Regions from separate parts of the Homo sapiens genome. Here all the other regions are reported to be linked to region 3. The links are microRNA targets in miRTarBase. Many come from high-throughput screens and were not tested one by one. Region 3 holds a microRNA gene; each other region holds the end of a gene's coding sequence.
Evidence for each region. Region 3 holds the annotated microRNA hsa-miR-7974 (AGGCUGUGAUGCUCUCCUGAGCCC, at 1,682-1,705, shown strand). A microRNA usually pairs through its seed, bases 2 to 8, with sites in the 3' UTR of a target mRNA and lowers its output. Matches are read on the target gene's strand: a 7mer-m8 pairs with bases 2 to 8, a 7mer-A1 pairs with bases 2 to 7 and ends in A, and an 8mer does both.

Region 1 (4,000 bases), not on the chromosome of region 3:
GGGCGCAGCTGCGGCCGCCGCCGAGGCGGGCGCGGCCTCCGGGGAGCAGGCAGCGGCGCCGGGCGAGGAGGCGGCAGCGGGCGAGGAGGGGGCGGCGGGTGGCGACCCGCAGGAGGCCAAGCCCCAGGAGGCCGCTGTCGCGCCAGAGAAGCCGCCCGCCAGCGACGAGACCAAGGCCGCCGAGGAGCCCAGCAAGGTGGAGGAGAAAAAGGCCGAGGAGGCCGGGGCCAGCGCCGCCGCCTGCGAGGCCCCCTCCGCCGCCGGGCCCGGCGCGCCCCCGGAGCAGGAGGCAGCCCCCGCGGAGGAGCCCGCGGCCGCCGCAGCCTCGTCAGCCTGCGCAGCCCCCTCACAGGAGGCCCAGCCCGAGTGCAGTCCAGAAGCCCCCCCAGCGGAGGCGGCAGAGTAAAAGAGCAAGCTTTTGTGAGATAATCGAAGAACTTTTCTCCCCCGTTTGTTTGTTGGAGTGGTGCCAGGTACTGGTTTTGGAGAACTTGTCTACAACCAGGGATTGATTTTAAAGATGTCTTTTTTTATTTTACTTTTTTTTAAGCACCAAATTTTGTTGTTTTTTTTTTTTCTCCCCTCCCCACAGATCCCATCTCAAATCATTCTGTTAACCACCATTCCAACAGGTCGAGGAGAGCTTAAACACCTTCTTCCTCTGCCTTGTTTCTCTTTTATTTTTTATTTTTTCGCATCAGTATTAATGTTTTTGCATACTTTGCATCTTTATTCAAAAGTGTAAACTTTCTTTGTCAATCTATGGACATGCCCATATATGAAGGAGATGGGTGGGTCAAAAAGGGATATCAAATGAAGTGATGGGGTCACAATGGGGAAATTGAAGTGGTGCATAACATTGCCAAAATAGTGTGCCACTAGAAATGGTGTAAAGGCTGTCTTTTTTTTTTTTTTAAAAGAAAAGTTATTACCATGTATTTTGTGAGGCAGGTTTACAACACTACAAGTCTTGAGTTAAGAAGGAAAGAGGAAAAAAGAAAAAACACCAATACCCAGATTTAAAAAAAAAAAAACGATCATAGTCTTAGGAGTTCATTTAAACCATAGGAACTTTTCACTTATCTCATGTTAGCTGTACCAGTCAGTGATTAAGTAGAACTACAAGTTGTATAGGCTTTATTGTTTATTGCTGGTTTATGACCTTAATAAAGTGTAATTATGTATTACCAGCAGGGTGTTTTTAACTGTGACTATTGTATAAAAACAAATCTTGATATCCAGAAGCACATGAAGTTTGCAACTTTCCACCCTGCCCATTTTTGTAAAACTGCAGTCATCTTGGACCTTTTAAAACACAAATTTTAAACTCAACCAAGCTGTGATAAGTGGAATGGTTACTGTTTATACTGTGGTATGTTTTTGATTACAGCAGATAATGCTTTCTTTTCCAGTCGTCTTTGAGAATAAAGGAAAAAAAATCTTCAGATGCAATGGTTTTGTGTAGCATCTTGTCTATCATGTTTTGTAAATACTGGAGAAGCTTTGACCAATTTGACTTAGAGATGGAATGTAACTTTGCTTACAAAAATTGCTATTAAACTCCTGCTTAAGGTGTTCTAATTTTCTGTGAGCACACTAAAAGCGAAAAATAAATGTGAATAAAATGTACAAATTTGTTGTGTTTTTTTATGTTCTAATAATACTGAGACTTCTAGGTCTTAGGTTAATTTTTAGGAAGATCTTGCATGCCATCAGGAGTAAATTTTATTGTGGTTCTTAATCTGAAGTTTTCAAGCTCTGAAATTCATAATCCGCAGTGTCAGATTACGTAGAGGAAGATCTTACAACATTTCCATGTCAAATCTGTTACCATTTATTGGCATTTAGTTTTCATTTAAGAATTGAACATAATTATTTTTATTGTAGCTATATAGCATGTCAGATTAAATCATTTACAACAAAAGGGGTGTGAACCTAAGACTATTTAAATGTCTTATGAGAAAATTTCATAAAGCCATTCTCTTGTCATTCAGGTCCAGAAACAAATTTTAAACTGAGTGAGAGTCTATAGAATCCATACTGCAGATGGGTCATGAAATGTGACCAAATGTGTTTCAAAAATTGATGGTGTATTACCTGCTATTGTAATTGCTTAGTGCTTGGCTAATTTCCAAATTATTGCATAATATGTTCTACCTTAAGAAAACAGGTTTATGTAACAAAGTAATGGTGTTGAATGGATGATGTCAGTTCATGGGCCTTTAGCATAGTTTTAAGCATCCTTTTTTTTTTTTTTTTTTGAAAGTGTGTTAGCATCTTGTTACTCAAAGGATAAGACAGACAATAATACTTCACTGAATCTTAATAATCTTTACTAGTTTACCTCCTCTGCTCTTTGCCACCCGATAACTGGATATCTTTTCCTTCAAAGGACCCTAAACTGATTGAAATTTAAGATATGTATCAAAAACATTATTTCATTTAATGCACATCTGTTTTGCTGTTTTTGAGCAGTGTGCAGTTTAGGGTTCATGATAAATCATTGAACCACATGTGTAACAACTGAATGCCAAATCTTAAACTCATTAGAAAAATAACAAATTAGGTTTTGACACGCATTCTTAATTGGAATAATGGATCAAAAATAGTGGTTCATGACCTTACCAAACACCCTTGCTACTAATAAAATCAAATAACACTTAGAAGGGTATGTATTTTTAGTTAGGGTTTCTTGATCTTGGAGGATGTTTGAAAGTTAAAAATTGAATTTGGTAACCAAAGGACTGATTTATGGGTCTTTCCTATCTTAACCAACGTTTTCTTAGTTACCTAGATGGCCAAGTACAGTGCCTGGTATGTAGTAAGACTCAGTAAAAAAGTGGATTTTTAAAAATAACTCCCAAAGTGAATAGTCAAAAATCCTGTTAGCAAACTGTTATATATTGCTAAGTTTGTTCTTTTAACAGCTGGAATTTATTAAGATGCATTATTTTGATTTTATTCACTGCCTAAAACACTTTGGGTGGTATTGATGGAGTTGGTGGATTTTCCTCCAAGTGATTAAATGAAATTTGACGTATCTTTTCATCCAAAGTTTTGTACATCATGTTTTCTAACGGAAAAAAATGTTAATATGGCTTTTTTGTATTACTAAAAATAGCTTTGAGATTAAGGAAAAATAAATAACTCTTGTACAGTTCAGTATTGTCTATTAAATCTGTATTGGCAGTATGTATAATGGCATTTGCTGTGGTTACAAAATACTTCCTCTGGGTTATAATAATCATTTGATCCAATTCCTATTGCTTGTAAAATAAAGTTTTACCAGTTGATATAATCAAGCCTGCTAAAATAGGATTTTTTTTTACAAATTTTATTTTAAAATGCAAATATTTTTAGAGAAAATTTTTAAATCTTAAGTGTTAAAGGTAAGCATTCAGTTTAAGAGATTTAAATGATATGCTTGGCATTATATTTAACAAATAAAATTATATCCATTGAAGGTGAGTTGTATGCCCCCAAGCCAATTAAAAATTTTAACGATAGAACTTGATAACATATTTGAGAAACAATGCAATTTTTTTATCATATGAATATAAACAATATATCTTTTCAATTAAAGTTAAGGATTTGGGGTAAGGTACTTTTCACAGCCATATATATATATATATATATATATATATATATATATATATGTTTATTTATTTACTTATAGGCAGGTGTCTTACTATGTTGCTCAGGCTGGTCTTGAACTCTGGGCTCAAACGATCCTCCTGCCTCGGCCTCCCAAAGTTCTAGGATTACAGGCATGAGCCACCACACATCCCTGGACATGCAGTCATATTTTTTAGATAGATCCTTGACTAGCAGTTGGTAGGGGAGTATAGTTTAATGTAGCCTCAGTCAAGTTTGAAAATTTTTAAAAGTAAGTAAGAGATCTATTAGATTTTAACTTCCCTTTAATCATTCACTGCATATTGAGCATTTTTTTCCCCTCTCCACATCCTATGAAAGTAGAGTGTGCCACACAGGAATTTTA
Region 2 (4,224 bases), not on the chromosome of region 3:
AAAATTAAATATTTAGCTTCTCAGCCACACTAGCCCTATTTCAAGTGCTCAATAGCCACGTATGGCTAGTGGCTACCATACTGGATAGCAGAGATACGTTTTCATCATTGCATAAAGTTCAATTGGACAGCACTGATCTGCTGCGTGTAGGGATCTGCTTTATCTGAAAACTTGATGCAGAATCACGGCTAGTTCAAAGAAACTTGCAGAACATTTCATGAAAATTAAATTTCTCTATGGTGAAAACTAGGGGTCAAGTAGCAGATGAATACTGGCTGTGAGATGAATGCATAACCAGAACCTCCCATTCCCCTTTTTCCAGCGTCTCTCCTATCTCCCAGCAGTGCTTTATCACTTTCTCCTCTCAAGTTGATAAAGAGAAAGGAAGAAAGAAACAGAGAAGTCGGTTTATGTTCATAATTAACATCCATGAACTCTGCATAATTTTTTCCCCTCTCTTTACAGGTCCTCGAGGCCACACGGGTTAATCGAAGAAAGAGCGCACTGGCTTTGCGCTGGGAAGCAGGGATCTATGCCAACCAGGAGGAAGAAGACAACGAATAAACTTCCTTCAACCCAGGAAGCGTCTTTGGTGCTTGGGAGACCAAGAAACCAAGAAATTAACAACTGAAAGCATTTTAATGGACTATTTATTAAAGTGCAAACAAACTCAGCAATCCTTATGTAGACCAGAAGCTGCAATATACAATGATGAAAATGAAACGAAAAGGAAGTCCCCCCATCAGACTCTGGACACCCAGGAATCAAAAGAGAAAGGACTTTTTTGGTGACTCAATCCCAGTGTCTGGTTTGGGGCCAATCTACAATGGATCCAAAAGGACAAAACATGTTACAAGCAAATCAACATAGTTGCTGCAGGCGGAACTGAGACCAGCCTCTCTGGGCGATGAAGGACAATGGTGGTAGGGCCACTTAGAGAGCAGTAGGGCCCAGGCTGGTGCAGCCTACATGGCACAGGATATTTCCCTGCACCAGTTTCCCACCTGTCACTTGCAGCATCAGAGGGTGTTGCATTAACTCCATTTTCTCCAGCAGCCATAAAATGAATGGCGTTTCTCTCCATATTTGCCCAGAAGAGGCAGTTATGATTCCACTTCTCCTACATTTAATTATTTTTAATTGAGAACAACTCATGATCACAATTCATAAAATCCATATTTTAAGACAATAGTTCTTCATGTCACAAACACAATCTATTCTACATGAGGAGGCTGAGAAAGGGGAAGAGAAAAACAAACCAAATGGATGATGTTAGCTTTAGGATCGTGTCTGCTTATAATATTCACTGATCTGCAGTTTATGAGAACACATTTTCACAGTTATGTTTCTTCATAGGAAAACTATATTTAGTGGGCAACAACTATTTTTATGATGGGATGGGGGAGTATATACACGTATAGAATCTGTACGCGTTGAACAACTTGGTTCAAGATGGTGGGGGCATTTTTAGAGCGGCAATAATTGAAAAAAAAGGCGAACTCTGCCTTGGAGAGGTAGATGATAAGAAATAAAAAGGTGTTTATAACTATTTTGTATTATAAAGTGGGCCTTAGAGATAGGAAGAAGAATGATGGATTCCTTTTGGATCAATCAGAAAGGAAACACGAAAGAAAAGTCAGGAAGGTAGAGAGAGAAAAAGGGAGGGAAGGAGAAAGAATGGGAATAAAATAAGGAGGTAAGAGATACTATTTTTGCTGAGCAACCAGTGTGTTTCAGGATGATACAAAGAAAAATATAGAATAGAAATAAGTGCAGGCTTGGAATCAGCTACAAATCCTAAAGATGGGGTGTGTGTGGATGTGTGTGTGTGTGTGTGTACACCATTGTGTGTTTGTAAAATGTGTATGTTCATGAGTAAGGGTGTGTGTGTGTGTGTATTAAAATTCCAGAGTGACCGTGGCACTTGGGTGTACAGGTAATTCCTCCAGAGCTGTTTGCTGGCTTCAGGAGTGGAGTGAGAATTTCTTTTTTATGAAAAGGGATATAAAGGCACCGAGCTGATGCAGTATTTGTAATATTAAGTTGACCTAACAAGGTATTTGCATGAGTCACAATTACAAAGTTTTGAGCGGTTTTGTAATTTGACATTTAGGAGAGTCTCCTATTTATTCTCATACTTTACATTCATGCTTAGTATACTATAGAGGATGCCAGCTTTAATCTTTCTGTCATTTAAAGCAATATGATAAGGGTATTCAATAATTGGGTGCCCTAAATTTCTGGATGAGAAAATTTTCAATTCTGGCCATGAGAAAGAAAAAAAAATAAACAGCCTTCTTTTTTTTTCCTTTGTTTTAAAACTGTGGTTTTTTAAAAAAGCAATAATTAACTCAGACCTCACTAAAAATCATTTTTGTTTTTATATTGTTATGTCATAAGCTCTATTATGTTATTCTAACAAGTAGCAATTTCACAAAATTTGTATGTAGATGTTAACGCACATTTCCTTTGCTTCTTTTATTAGACTAGTGTTGACTTTGGGGGGGGACATTTATTCACAAATGAGAAGTAGGCACAAAGTAAAAAATGGAACCATCTACTAACAAGGATCCTTTAAAACTGCCAAGGGAGCTCTAACTTGAAGCCACATCCTACAGATGGCAGCCCAAATAGCACATGGGCAATTGGCACCATCTTTATATGGTTGAGTCTCCTGAATATTTTGAATGAATTCTCAACAAAATGTGCTAGCCACTGGGGACGCAAAACAAGTAAGATCCCTGTTGCAAGAAATTCATTTTATAGTGAGGGAGGTTGGCATGGAGACTAAAATTCTCAGGAAAATGAGATCCGTGTTAGATTAGAAGTCCTGATGTGAAATGGGAGGACTCAGGAAGGAGGATCGTCTTTACCTGAGGATTTCTAGCCAGAGGTCCCAGATGCCTGGGCTGAGAACCCAGCGATAAGGGGGCGTTCCCAAAGCAGACACAGGGATAAGAACAGAGGAGGCAGCAGCATTGCACAGCCCCAGGCACAGTGGCAGTTAGGATGGCTGGAGAGTAGGATAGTTCTATGGGTTGCCCAAAAAATGTGATGCGCTTCATGTTTTCTCTGACTCATGGATCTGGTAGAGACCATAGACATGATATAGACTAACTTCCCCATTTTTCACAAGAGGAAACCATCCTTATGACTTACCTTAAAGTTTTTTGTTCTGTTTTGAAGGAAACCATGTGCTTCATGAAACCTACAGTTGACAAGAGAATGTACAGCTAAGAGAAAAGCTTAAGAGGCCACACTATTCGCGGAATGGCTTTAGAGGCAGATGAAGTGGTCTTTGACCACAGTTGATTGAACCAGAGCACTTATTGCTTAAAGAATAACAGAGTTCTAGAGCTGGGGGTTCTTGGGCCATGCTCCGTGTGTGGATAAGGAAAGAAATACTGTTTCTGGGACTCTCCCACAGTCACAAAGCTGTTTTCACTGTGGCCCCTACATCTCTTAACTTTTGCTATTACTCCTATGCTGCCTTCCGGATTACTGCTGTCTATCTTCTTGCTCCACTCACTGAAGATCCTATTATAATCCCATGAAAATGTAAATTACAGTTTACTTGGGAGAGCCAGATTTTCTCTGTGCTCTTGAGTTTTTTATTCATTCAAGAAACCTTGGGCCACCGCTTTGTACATAGCACCGTGCTAGGCTCTGGGATCCCAAATGGACCCTTTTAACTTTCTGAAGATGGGACCGTCCCCTGGAGGAAAGTCATTCCTGCCTAATCCATCGAGAGAAAGAGGCTTACGAAAAACTTTGCCTCTGATGCTCAGCCCCACCCCCAAATAGCACACAAGCTTGTTAACCCCACCTCTTACAAAATGTTTAGATTCTGTAGGTGTTAAAAGCCTTTCTGGAAGTATTGCATTCTGCCGTGTTTATAGGTGTTCACTTTCCTCCAGAGCTGATTAACTACTGACATGACTTGGCTTTCTCATCCAGAAATTATGGAAACAGGGTCTGTCAGTGGCAGGAGGCCGTGCTGTGTTTTACTTGGATGACACAATGCAGTTTACTTGCCTCTTCATACCCATGCATGCTGCTCACCCTAGACAATGACATATAAGCCGTATATAGATCAATGTCCACATATATATACACACACACATATATATATATAAAGTGTAACAAGGAACACTAAAACAGTGTTGATTCTTGTCTCTGAAGACAAATAATTAAACCTTTTTTTTCCCAACTAAAGAATGGATT
Region 3 (4,224 bases):
TTGAGGAGCTGACATTCTGGTGGGAGAGACAGACAGGGCACATGTAAACAAATGGCCACAGATGGCATCTAGGTACTACCTGGAGAAAACAGACAGCAAAGTTAAGGTCGGCTAGAGTGACTGGGCAGGGAGTGGCCTCTTGGAGGGGATGCATTTGGGGGAGACCTGAGTGAAGTGGGGAGGGAGCAAGACAGTTATCTAGAGGAAGCAGGCACAGCCTGTGCCAAGGCCCTGAGGCAGGGCCACACCTAGCCCGCTCCAGGAACAGCGAGGAGGCCATGTGGCTGGAGTGGAGTGCAGTCACCAAGTGGGTGAGGGCGGGGAGGTGACAAGTCACAGTGGGCCTTGTGGGCCGAAGGGAGGACTTTGGCTTTTACCCTGAGGGAGTTGGTCTTGCTGTGTCATCCAGGCTGGAGTGCAGTGTTGCGACCTTGGCTCACTGCATCCTCCACCTCCCAGGCTCAAGCGATCCTCCTACCTCAGCCTCCCAAGTAGCTGGGACAAAAGGCATACACCACCATGCCGGCCAATTTTTGTATTTTTAGTAAAGATGGGTTTTCGCCATGTTAGCCAGGCTGGTTTCAAACTCCTGGCCTTAAGTGATCCGCCTGCCTCTGCCTCCCAAAGTGCTAGGATTGCAGGTGTGAGTCATTGCGCCTGGCCCAGTGGATTCTGAGCAGAGGAGGGAACAGACTTGACTCGGGCATTCACAGGCGCCCCCTTGCGGCTGTAGGGGGTGGTTAGGGCGGGAGCCTGGGAGTCCTGGGCCTGAGGACTGCGCTGGTCTAGGCGTTTGATGAAGATGAGAACAATTAACAAGCAGCTAACAATTATTATGCACCTACTGTGCACCAGGCTCCACTGTTTACATGACTTTGCCAATAGAACAGTCCCCGTTACCTCCAGGGGGTGCCTCTCCTCTCTGAGCCTCAGTTTCCCCCTTTAAACTGGGTACAGGCCTGGATGGTACTCAGGAGGGCCTCCAAACCCATGGGACCCATAAAGCCCCGGTGGTTCAGGCAGCCATGTCACCATGGGCTGAGCCCTGTCCCTTATACCCACTCCTCGGCCCTGTGTCCATAGGGCGGCGACGCAACGTGAACTGCCTGAAGAACGTGGTGATCTGGTACGAGGACCACAAGCACCGCTGCCCGTACGAGCCGCACCTGGCGGAGCTAGACCCCACTTTTGGCCTGTACACCACGGCCGTGTGGCAGTGCGAAGCTGGCCACCGCTACTTCCAGGACCTGCATTCGCCCCTGAAGCCCCTCAGCGACTCAGACCCTGACAGTGACAAAGGTAGGTCTGCAGGGCGAGGGCACATAGGGGGCCGCCCATTTCTGGGGGCTTCTTACGAGCCCTAGGCTAGCATCACAAACAGAATAGCAGCCACAGTGGCTCTGGCTCTGGCTCTGGCACTGGGGCAGAGCAGGGACACGATGGGCCAGGCTGAGTCCTTCGTGGCCTTGCCCTCTTTGCGTCCTTACAGAGCTTGAGTGGGGAGGCAGTCCCTCTTTATGGAGCAGTTTGCCAATCTGTGCCCAAGGCCAGTCCCAGGCAGGGCTGGCTGAGGGCCCAGGAGCCCTGGCTTGGCAGCTGGGGCGGGGGCAGGCCTGCTGGGGCAGGGCTCGGCCCCCACAGCGAAACGGCCGCCTAAACCACCCAGGCCTTATGGCTTCATAGGCTGTGATGCTCTCCTGAGCCCTGGCTAAGCTGGCCGCTACCTCCTTTTCGATTTTCTCTGGCTCCCAGTTGCATTCTCTTGCCTTCTGCCTTTCCAGGCTTCGTTTCTTGCCTTCCCCCTCCATTCTGTTTCCCTCCTGTTCCCCATTTCTCCTCCCTTGAGCTGCCTCTGTCTCCTCCTTCCTTGATCTTTCATTTTCTGTCTCATCTCCCTCTCTCTCTTTCTCTTGTTTCCTTCTATTCCCCTTTCTCCTCCTCCCTCCCCACCTTCGCGGTCCCTGCCTCTCTCCTTCCCATCCCACGGGGCAGGGACTCAGTGAGGGAGGCTCAGTTGGCCCCGGTGAGTGGTGAGGGGGCTGCCGGCAGCCTCAGGGGTTCGGCAATGGCTGGAGAAGGAGCGTAGGGCACACTGCCAGGCGTCCTGTCAGGGCTGAGGGTGGGGCGGTCACCAGGGCTGAGCCTGCGCTGGCTGGCATCTCGGAGCAGGTGGCATCCCAGCTGGCCGAGGGGAAGCCGGGGGCGAGAGGTGTTCCGGGTGGGCGCCCCCGCCAACGACCGTCCCACCAAGTGTCGGCCAGGCTCTCAGCGTGCAGTGGCCTCTCGGCTGCCCCATCCCATGATCTGCATTCCGCCCTCCTCTGCCTTTTACTGCCCCCTCACTGTGTGCCACTCCTGGCCCTGCCCAGAGCCACCATGAATCTTCCCCATGGCCTTGTCATCAGCCCCACTTGGCAGTCAAGGAATCCCAAGCCCCAGGAGTGATCTGACTGGCCCATTTGGTGATGGGTCAGGCTGGGGTGTGGGTGGTGCCCAGAGCAGCTTACTTACGCCCCAACTCAACTTTTTATTATTTATTTATGTATGTATTTATTTATCTGAGACAGGGTCTCGCTCTTGTCGCCCAGGCTGGAGTGCAATGGCGCGATCTCGGCTCACTGCAAGCCAAGCCTCAGGTTCCAGCCATTCTCCTTCCTCAGCCTCCCTAGTAGCTGGGATTACAGGCATCTGCCACCACACCTGGCTAATTTTTGTATTTTTAGTAGACACTGGGTTTCACCATGTTGGCCGGCTGGTCTTGAACTCCTGACCTCAGTTGATCCACCCACCTCGGCCTTCCAAAGTTCTGGGATTACAGGCGTGAGCCACTGCACCCGGCCTTATGTTATGTTATGTTATGTTATGTTTTATGTTATGTTATGTTATGTTATGTTATGTTATGTTATGTTATGTTATGTTATCTTTTTGAGACAGATTCTGTCTCTGTCACCCAAGCTGGAGTGCAGTGGTGCGATCTTGGCTCACTGCAACCTCTGCCTCCCAGGTTGAAGCAATTCTCTCACCTCAGCCTCCCTAGTAGCTGGGATTACAGGCGTGAGCCACCATGCCCAGCTAATTTTTGTATTTTTAGTAGACGTGGGTTTTCACCACTTTGGCCAGGCTGGTCTCGAACTCCCAGCCTCAAGTGATCCTCCTGCCTCGGCCTCCCTAAGTGCTGGGATTACTGGTGTGAGCCACCATACCTGGCTTTTTATTTTTATTTATTTTTTTTAAGACAGGGTCTCACGGTTGCCCAGGCTGGAGTGCAGTGGTGCCATCATAGCTCACTTCAGCCTCCAATTCCTGGGCTCAAGTGATCCTCCCACCCTGGCCTCCTGAGTAGCTGGGAACACAGGCACACACCACCACAGCCAGCTGATTTTTAAATTTTTTGTAGAGATGGGATCTCACTGTGTTGCCCAGGCTGGTCTCAAACTCCTGGGATCTAGTAATCCTCCTGCCTTGGCCTCCCAAAGTGCTGGGATTACAGGCATATGCCACCGGGCCTTGCCCATGGCTATTTCTGTTGGTGCTGTCATTACCTGAGGAGAAGTCTGGGGTCAGCCAAACTTAGCAGGTGCTGCAGTCAGGTGGACCCAGACGCGTGCTCTGGCCCTTCCCTCCACTCATTAGGACACTGCGCCCTCCTTCTGGATGGTGCCAGAGAGTTTGCCCACCCTGCAGAATACAGGACAAGGGGAAATTATCCAGAAAGAGGGGCTGATCCTCCTTATCCCCAACCCTGCTGCCACCCCAGGTCCATCAACAGTGGGCATCTCACTGCCCTGAATGGCACTGAGATAATAATAGGAAACTTACAGGGTACATACTTTTAATCTCCTACTGTCCTAAACCCTTATACATATTTACTCATTAAAGACCCAAAACAAAGGCTGGGCACGGTGGCTCACACCTGTAATCCCAGCACTTTGGGAGGCCGAGGCAGGTGGATCACTTGAGACCAGGAGCTCAAGACCAGCCTGGCCAACATGGTGAAACCCCATCTCTACTAAAAATACAAAAATGAGCTGGGCATGGTGGCGCATGCCTGTAATCCTAGCTACTTGGGAGGCTGAGGCAGGAGAATCACTGAAACCCAGGAGGCGGAGGTTGCAGTGAGCCAAGATCGCACCACTGCATTCCAGCCTGGGCAACAGAGCAAGACTCTGTCTAGAAAAAAAAAAAAACACTCCCGAGGGCCGGGTACAGTGGCTCACACCTGTA
Region 4 (4,208 bases), not on the chromosome of region 3:
CCGCCCCCGGCCCCGGGGTCCTGACCACCTCTCCGCCCCCGGCCCCGGGTTCCTGACCACCTCTCCGCCCCCGGCCCCGGGGTCCTGACCACCTCTCCGCCCCCGGCCCCGGGTTCCTGACCACCTCTCCGCCCCCGGCCCCGGGGTCCTGACCACCTCTCCGCCCCCGGCCCCGGGTTCCTGACCACCTCTCCGCCCCCGGCCCCGGGGTCCTGACCACCTCTCCGCCCCCGGCCCCGGGTTCCTGACCACCTCTCCGCCCCCGGCCCCGGGGTCCTGACCACCTCTCCGTCCCCAACCCCGGGGTCCTGACCACCTCTCTGCCCCCGGCCCCAGGGTCCTGCAGGCAGGGCTGGAGGTGGAGCGGCTCCGACTGCGGAATTTCTATCACCACTACCACTCCAAGAGGGGCATGTGGAGCGTCCGCAGCAGGAAGGGCTCTCGCACGGGGGCGTCTTGAGGACGGGCAGCCCCTCCCAGCCCCGGTGGGAGTCCCGAGGCAGCTGCTGGGGGCTGGGCTTTGAGCTCGGTCCCGAGAGACCCGGCAGGGCTGGTCAGAGGGGCACAGCCACCGCCTGTGCCTGCCCCTCTCTGGCCCACTGGGCGTCGTGCCCCTCCCCGGAGAGGCAGCCTTCACGGCGGGTCAGGGCCTGGCCTTGGTCCCCACTCTGCGATGATTTCTGTGAAATTTTGCTGTAGCGATGACATTGTTTTCAGAATTTCCAAGAGTTCTGTCTGTTCTGTTTTTTATTCAGAATGAAATGAAATATTTTTTTTAGTTCTGACTAGTCCTCTGTGCCTGTTCTCTTGAGAGGTAGAGTCCTCTCCCCTGGGGGACCCTGAGCACGACCTCCTGACTCCCAGCCGCAGCCCTTCCGGACCTCTCCTTCTCCTACCCCCAAGACCACTTTCCCCTTCCTGCCTGTGAGGTTCTGTGCCGGGCCCTGTGGGGAGGGGGCTTCCGACTTCCTCCGCCCTGTGTCTATGGGGTCTGTGCCCGCTGATAACAGACATAGATAGCACAGGGCCCTCCCACACTGAGGCGAGGAATGAGCAGTCACCACCTCAGTTCCCCTCATTCTGCAAACAGAATCGGGGTGTCATTCCCACCCCAGCCTCCTCTAGGGTGGAGGAGCTGCTGCACCCAGGTGGGGCATGTCGTGTGCTGGGGTTGGGGGTGATCAGGCAGAACTCAGGGTTGCCAGAAACAGAAACCCAACTCAAGCCAGTGAAGCCGTAATCAGGGGGCCTGTATGACTTTGGAACCCTCCAGGTCAGGGTCAGCAGGACACCAGAGAAGGACAGACTCAGAGGCTGGTCGAAGCCCACTCCTGCCTTGTCTCCTCTCTGCCTGTGGGTCCAGCTCAGTCCTGGCCTGGGCCAGGTCACAGGAGGGAGGCTGTACTCTGCCAGGCAGCGAGTGAGTGTGTGAGTTCCCTGTGGCTGCCGTAGCAAATTGGCACAAATGTAGTGGCTTAAAAAAATTATTATCTTACAGTTCTGGAGATAAAAAGTCCTAGAACTAAGCCCGGCACAGTGGCTCACGCCTGTAATCCCAGTACTTTGGGAGGCTGAAGCGTCCGGATCCCTAGACACGGTGGTGTGTACCTGTAGTCCCAACTACTTGGAAGGTTGAGGCAGGAGGATCACCTGAGCCCGGGAGGTCAGGGCTGCAGTGAGCTGTGGTTGCATCACTGCACTCCAGCCTGGGAAACAGAGCAAGGCCCTGTCTCGGAAAAAAAAAATGCTAAAATTAAGGTGTCAGCAGGGCTGGTTCCTTCGGGAGACTTAGGTGTGAGTCTGCGTCCGTGCCTTCTCCAGCTTCTCAAGGCCACCTGGATTTCAGCAGCTTGGCCTCTTCCCCTCTCTCACTCACTCTCTCTCTCCCTCTCTCCCTCATCTCCTCCTGTGACTCTGACCCTGCTGCCTTCTCTTATAAGGCCCCCTGCGATGACACTGGGCCCTCCCAGCAAACCCACGATAACCATCACGTCCCTCACTCAGTCACATCTGCAAAACCCCTTTGCCATGAAGGTAACAGTCACAGGTTCTGGGACTAGGACAGGCACATCTTGAGCGGTCACTCTTCTTTCTACCTCCTCGTTCACACGGGGTGGGAAAATAGCTCCTAGGCCCAGCAGCCAGAATTGTCCTCTGCAGATACGTCCTGAGGTCACTGCTCACCGTGCACTCACGGCAGCTGGGCGGTGGAGCCGAAGGAAGAACCAGGGGGACCTGCCGTGGACCAGAGCGGCATCCAGTCGCCTGGTGTGGGCTTCACAGGTCCTGCTGGTCCACAGGTGTGCAGGTCCACAGAGGTGCCCGCAGGGCAGGGGACATGGCTGGCCACACACATGCCCAGAAGCCATGTGCTGACCAGCTGTCCTGCCCGCTGATCCCTGTGTATCTAGTTCAGATGGACTTGTCCCCACTCACAGATGTTTCGCAGCAAGAGAAGAACTAGCCTTGGATTTAATGATCCACGCTAACCCAAGAAAATGAGAAAAGGATAGAAGAAATGTAAACCACAGGCAGGGGAAGCCTGCACATCAGAAAGAGAATTAACCTTGGAAAACAAAAAAGTCAAAATTCCATGTAATCTGGACGATTCACACCATCATTTAATCCGTTTAGCAATGATTCATTGCACACTCACTACATGTCCCGCACTGAGGAAAAGGCAGGGAACGGAACAGACAAAAACTGCTGCCCCCAAGGATCTTACATTCTAATACGGGGGGGAGCGGGGCACGACGACGCCATCAATAACACATCTGGTATACCAGCTGGCGGCAAGGGCAGTGGAGAGAAAGGAAGCCCGGGAAGGCAGCAGCCCATGTGAGCGTGACTGCGTTTCTAAGCAGGGTGCTCAGAAAGACCAAGCGTGAGAAGGTGAAGGCGGCCGAGGACACAGGCGGGGGAGGGCAGGGGTCAGCGGCAGCCTTTGAGGAAATTTCTTAAAAATCAATGATAAGGCTGGGCATAGTGGCTCACACCTGTAATCTCAGCACTTCGGGAGGCTGAGGCAGGAGTGATGGCAGCGGTGGCCCATCTAGAGTGGACACTGCCAAGATGCTGGCCGCAGCGGAGAGGCATGGCAGGGCCTCCCACTCCACAGAGCAGGCAGGAGCTCGGCCCTCCTGGGCACTGGGTTCGTTTGCGTGCACCTCAATATTCCTGTGCTCTTGGGGGCCCAGGAAGGCCCCCACCCGGCCCCCTGTAGGCTCAGAAGTACCTGCTCCTGCTGCCCCTGCGGAGCCTGGTGCTTCCAGTAGCTGGAACCGGGGCCCACAGTCCGCTCCCAGAGGTGTCTCCCAGCATGGTTGCGAGTCGGGTGAGGGGCGGCCCCAGGCTGCCCCTGAGTGTTGGAACTGCAGGGGGATCTTGTGGTGACATCGCCTCCCTCTGCCCCGGATGCCGACCCGGGCTCTGTGAGGGCCGAAAGTCTTCACCCCAGGCTGCAAGGAGGCGGACAGGGGAGCAGGATGACTGCAGGAGCAGCAGTGGCGGCAGCAGGTCCCCAGTGCCCCATGTCCCCAAGGCTGCCGACGGTGCCACCCCCACCCTCACACAGCTGGGCAAGACCCACTCCCAGGCCTGGAACCCCCACAGCCGGGCAAGACCCACTCCCAGGCCTGGAACCCCCACAGCCGGGCAAGACCCACTCCCAGGCCTGGAACCCCCACAGCCGGGCAAGACCCACTCCCAGGCCTGGAACCCCCACAGCCGGGCAAGACCCACTCCCAGGCCTGGAACCCCCACAGCCGGGCAAGACCCACTCCCAGGCCTGGAACCCCCACAGCCGGGCAAGACCCACTCCCAGGCCTGGAACCCCCACAGCCGGGCAAGACCCACTCCCAGGCCTGGAACCCCCACAGCCGGGCAAGACCCACTCCCAGGCCTGGAACCCCCACAGCCGGGCAAGACCCACTCCCAGGCCTGGAACCCCCACAGCCGGGCAAGACCCACTCCCAGGCCTGGAACCCCCACAGCCGGGCAAGACCCACTCCCAGGCCTGGAACCCCCACAGCCGGGCAAGACCCACTCCCAGGCCTGGAACCCCCACAGCCGGGCAAGACCCACTCCCAGGCCTGGAACCCCCACAGCCGGGCAAGACCCACTCCCAGGCCTGGAACCCCCACAGCCGGGCAAGACCCACTCCCAGGCCTGGAACCCCCACAGCCGGGCAAGACCCACTCCCAGGCCTG
Region 5 (4,224 bases), not on the chromosome of region 3:
GGCAGCAGGGCCCCTGCCAGCTCCAGGAGGGACTCGAGGGAGAGCCTGGCACAGGCCCGCGCACATTCTGTGGCTCACAGGGAGGTAGGCAGAGCGGGCGGCAGCCTTCATCCCCAGGCTCAGCTGGCCCATGTGCACACATACACACACCATTCCCATGCCACTCACAGGCACACACAACACATGCATGTCACATGCCACACACAGGCACACACCACATACCAAGCACACACCACATGCCACACATCACATACAGCACACATGTGCATGCCACACACACCATGTGCACACAGGCACACACCACACCCACACCATGTACAGCCAGTAGGTACACACACACACACACACACACACACACACACACACACACACACAGAGCAGGAGCGGGAGCCCCAGGAAAGAAGTCTGTGGGCTCCATTCGGGCCAGAACTGCGGTGAGGGGTCAGCCACAGGCCAGGCCTCCCTGTGCCGAGCCCCAGGCCTGGGAACACTGGGGAGGAAGAGGTGGTCTGAGGGCAAAGTGACCCATCTTGGGGGGCACGGCTCAGTGCAGAGGTGCCGGAAGTCATCGTCCCTCACACAGATGCCACGTCAGGGCCTTGGTGGCTGCACTGTGGGGTCAGCTCTTCATCGCCCCAGCCGGCCACTGCCACGAGCTTTAGGAGGAAGGAGGGTGCTAGAAGTCCCTGCTGAGTGGACACCAATAAATGCAGGGATGTCAAGGAGGGTGGTGCCAGCCGCTGGAGGGCTCCAGTCATGGGCTCTACAGGAAGCCTGGGGAGGACGGGCACCCACGCAGGGCACCTGCATGTGCCCCGCCCCTGCCTCCTCTTCTGCCCCCACGCTGGCTTCCTGGAGCCACAGGGCTGGGCCCCAGTCCCCACAGCGGGCGGGCTGTGCTGGAGCCCAAGGTCTGAGGAGGAACAGGGCTCCCTCCCTGCCCAGCAGACCCAGCGGCCCTGAGCATCCTCGGCTTCAGGACCCAAACTGCAGGGCCTGTCTCCTTTACAGCCTTTTGCTTGGATGGGAAACCTGCTCCGGGCTTTGGCTGGGGACGCCTGCCACGCTGAGGCTTCTCCCAAGTGCCCACAACTCTACCTGGTCAAGGGGCTGTAAGGCCTAGCCAGGCTCCTGGTGGGAGTCGGGCAGCGGGAAGACCCCTTGGAGCAGAAACTGGGTCTCTCCCCTACTCCAAGCCCCGTGCCGGCCTCATGCTGGGCACCCAGAAGCCCAGTCACCCACTCCACCCCTCACCAGGGCCCTGGGGTCAGGCTGGGCCAGCCACACACCTGGAAACAGGATGGACAAGGCCACTACAGCCTGAGGCTCTGTGACCTCAGACAGCCAGGCCCTGGGGGACACCGTGAATGGGAATCTCCCTGCGGGGGGGCGGGGAGTCCAACAGCCAAGGCTTCGTGGAGCAGCCACCAGGAGGAGTCACAGCAGCTGGCGAGGGGGTGCCGGGACCCCAGGACCTTCTCGGGAAGCTCCTGCTGTCACAACCCAGGCTGCAGGCTAAAGTGAGGGAAGAGAGGTGGATGCTAACTTGAGGTATCAGGACTTTCAAAAAAACATCACTTGAGCCGCGCGCAATGGCTCACGCCTGTAATCCCAACTGCTCAGGAGGCTGAGGCAGGAGGATCACTTGAGCCCAGCAGTTCAAGACCAGCCTGGGCAACATAGCAAGACCCCTGTCTCTTAAGGAAAAAAAAAGGCCCTTGTACATGGTCTCCGGTCTCCCGGGATGGGGGTATGCTATCTGCTGGAGGTAGGTGAGGGGTCCAGGCAGAGTGGGGTGCAGGGATGGGCCGTGCAGCTCTGATCCAGTGACCCTGGCCAAGCCGGCACCCCGTGGATGGCCCAGCTCCGCCCTGGCCATCGACTGAGAGGCAGAGGCAGAGCCCTGAGTGAGCCGCCGCGGCCAGTGGGGCTGGGCGGCTTGGAGGGGCAGCACCTTGGTCCGAGCGACCCGGGGTGGCATTCCCCTGCATCTTAAGACCATAAACAGCTACTACGCGCATTCATAAATACACAATTTTATTTGCTATTTCCAGGGGAAACTTAGGCATTAAACTGTAAGCTGATAAAATACGATACCTAAAAAAGTATAAAAGTATAAATATCCCCTTAGAATAAATTTTAGTGAATTAAGTCTTAATATCTTTAAATTAAAAAAACCACAAGCCTATCTACTATGTCAAGGTCAAAAATCAAACAACGCTAAGCGGCCAGCAGCTCCCCAGAGAGGATGCCCAGGAGCCCCAGCGGCCGCCTTCCTCCCAGGCTCTGCTGGGGCTAAGTCTGCCTTCTAGAAAGGCTTTTATAAATTGTTTAAGCCAAACATTTAACAACATACAAGAGACCTTACAAAAAGAAGGAGGTAAGTCCTAATGCTGGAGAATTGGTTAATCAGGTGACTGGCAAAGAGGAGGATGAGGCCTAGGCAGGAAGTCTCCAGAAGCATTGGAAACCAGACAGTGTCAGAGCCTCTGACCTGCAGGCGGGAGGCCGGTGGTCAGTCTGCACAGTACCCCTTGGGAAGCCGGAGTTCCGGAAGCAAAGCGCTTGGAGCCCGCCCTGCACGCCGAGTCCCCAGACTCTGACAGGTCCCCACAGCCAGCTGAGAAAGGTCTGTTTTCAAAGCATGCGGGCAGCGGTTTCTAAAGGAATCCCAGCAGCTCCCACGGCATGTCGGGCAGAGCCCGTGCAGGTCGAGTGAAGTCCCAAACATCCCAGAAAGAGAGGGAAGGCTGCATAGTTATACAAAGAAAATGAGAGAGCGGCGAGAGAGAGGCATTTGTGATGCTCTGTAAACATCCCGAATTTTCACCGTGACGCAGACCTTCAGCTCCAGAAGCCAGTGGACAGGCCTCCAGCCCAACCTCTATGCCAGGCGTGACAAGGCACTGACAGACGCCAGCTCCCCGTGAGCCCGCAGTGGGAGGGGCGAGGCGACACTGCTACCTCGCGCTAACGGATGGAACAGATCAGTCTCCACGCGGCAAGCCCTGTGGGCATTTCCAGAGGAAAAACGCTGGGGAGTCTATCCACACAGAGAAGGGGTACAAAGTTCTCTTGCCTGGAAAATACAAATTGAGAAGCCTTGACTGTCCCGGGCTTGGTCAGGTGGGGTTGGAGCCCGTGTCAGAAGAAGGCCCGGCCTCGGAATGGCGCCGGGAAGCAGTGACGACGCAGAAGCCGCCTTTGTCAGGAGCTCTGCGAGGTCGAGAGAAACCAGCGATCCCGCCTGGGAGGCAGAGCAGACTCCCTGACCGAGACTAGGGCCTGGTGGTCGGACCAGAGGCCACGACGTGCTGGACACTGACGCGGCTGCGGCCGCTTCCTGCCAGTGAAGCCCAGGCTGCTTTTCCAGACTGTGTGTAGCACCAAGAACGCTTCCTTCACACGATCTTCAGGATCGAGCGGGCTGACTGGGAGTGTCTGCCTCAGTCCCACGTGGCACTTGGAAAAAACAGAGCGAGGCCCCCCCAAGAGGCAGCGCCCACCCGGCCGCCGTGCTCCCCCAACTTGGGGACGTCTGGCCTTGGACAGCTGGGCCCGTCTCTCACCACCCACCTCAGAGGCAAAAAAGGATTCACACCCAGATCTCTAGAAAAATGATCAAAAGCAGGTTTCTTCTCACAGCCAAGCTTCCTGGACATGGCAGTTCATTACATCTCGGGAAAACGTAAATCATTTCTTCAGCTGTCAATACTGTGTCCCTCACATCCTTGAGCCTCGTTCTTGCAAAATCTGAAAAACACCAAATGCATAAAATGAGGACTTGGGCTGAGGAGGTGTCCCTGACCAGGCGCCTGCTCCAGAAAACAGAGCCCACAGGCCTGGGGTTAGCTCGGGGAGCCCCGGGAACCCAGCGGCACTGGCCAGGGTCTTGGGGACTCAGCTGGCAGGCCCAGGACCTTCACCGGGGTGTCTGGCACATCTCCAGGCCCCACACAGGGAGCGCTCACTGTGCATGGCAGCCCCTCCCAGACCCACCCAAAGGCGCTGACTCTTGGGCCTCTCAGCCCACTCAGTCCTGGGCCTCAGACATGAAGCGCAACTCGGCCCGCGGGTCCCTCAGCAGTCCAGTCCCCCCTCCCCAATTAAGTCTCTCCCTCTGTTCCTCCATGCCCACTGCAGCCCCCACCCCCACCCCGACGCCCGGACCCTCCTGGAGATGCCCCTCACCCAAGCCCTCGGCCCTGCACCTCAGCCTGGCCA

Region 1: the mRNA of MARCKS is a reported target of hsa-miR-7974. The part of its 3' UTR that is shown has no 7-base or 8-base seed match.
Region 2: the mRNA of PALM2AKAP2 is a reported target of hsa-miR-7974. Seed matches in the 3' UTR shown: 7mer-m8 at 2,982-2,988.
Region 4: miRTarBase lists B4GALNT4 as a target of hsa-miR-7974. Seed matches in the 3' UTR shown: 8mer at 564-571.
Region 5: miRTarBase lists KCTD5 as a target of hsa-miR-7974. The part of its 3' UTR that is shown has no 7-base or 8-base seed match.

What each region holds. Positions count from the first base shown.
Region 1 is chr6:113,860,174-113,864,173 of GRCh38, forward strand. MARCKS (myristoylated alanine rich protein kinase C substrate) reads left to right here. Exons shown (of 2, transcript NM_002356.7): 2 at 1-3,302. The coding sequence ends at 406. Among named protein-coding and RNA genes, the nearest start is that of MARCKS, 4.8 kb to the left of the region's middle.
Region 2 is chr9:110,167,934-110,172,157 of GRCh38, forward strand. PALM2AKAP2 (PALM2 and AKAP2 fusion) reads left to right here. Exons shown (of 11, transcript NM_007203.5): 11 at 466-4,224. The coding sequence ends at 564. Among named protein-coding and RNA genes, the nearest start is that of C9orf152, 38 kb to the right of the region's middle.
Region 3 is chr19:11,493,025-11,497,248 of GRCh38, reverse strand. It overlaps MIR7974 (microRNA 7974), which reads left to right and starts at 1,627; the gene lies at 1,627-1,705. ZNF653 (zinc finger protein 653) reads left to right here. Exons shown (of 9, transcript NM_138783.4): 3 at 1,084-1,299. RefSeq lists a silencer at 607-656.
Region 4 is chr11:381,333-385,540 of GRCh38, forward strand. It overlaps B4GALNT4 (beta-1,4-N-acetyl-galactosaminyltransferase 4), which reads left to right. Exons shown (of 20, transcript NM_178537.5): 20 at 337-785. The coding sequence ends at 460. Among named protein-coding and RNA genes, the nearest start is that of PKP3, 11 kb to the right of the region's middle.
Region 5 is chr16:2,706,827-2,711,050 of GRCh38, reverse strand. KCTD5 (potassium channel tetramerization domain containing 5) reads right to left here. Exons shown (of 6, transcript NM_018992.4): 6 at 2,021-3,753. The coding sequence ends at 3,724. Among named protein-coding and RNA genes, the nearest start is that of PRSS27, 11 kb to the left of the region's middle.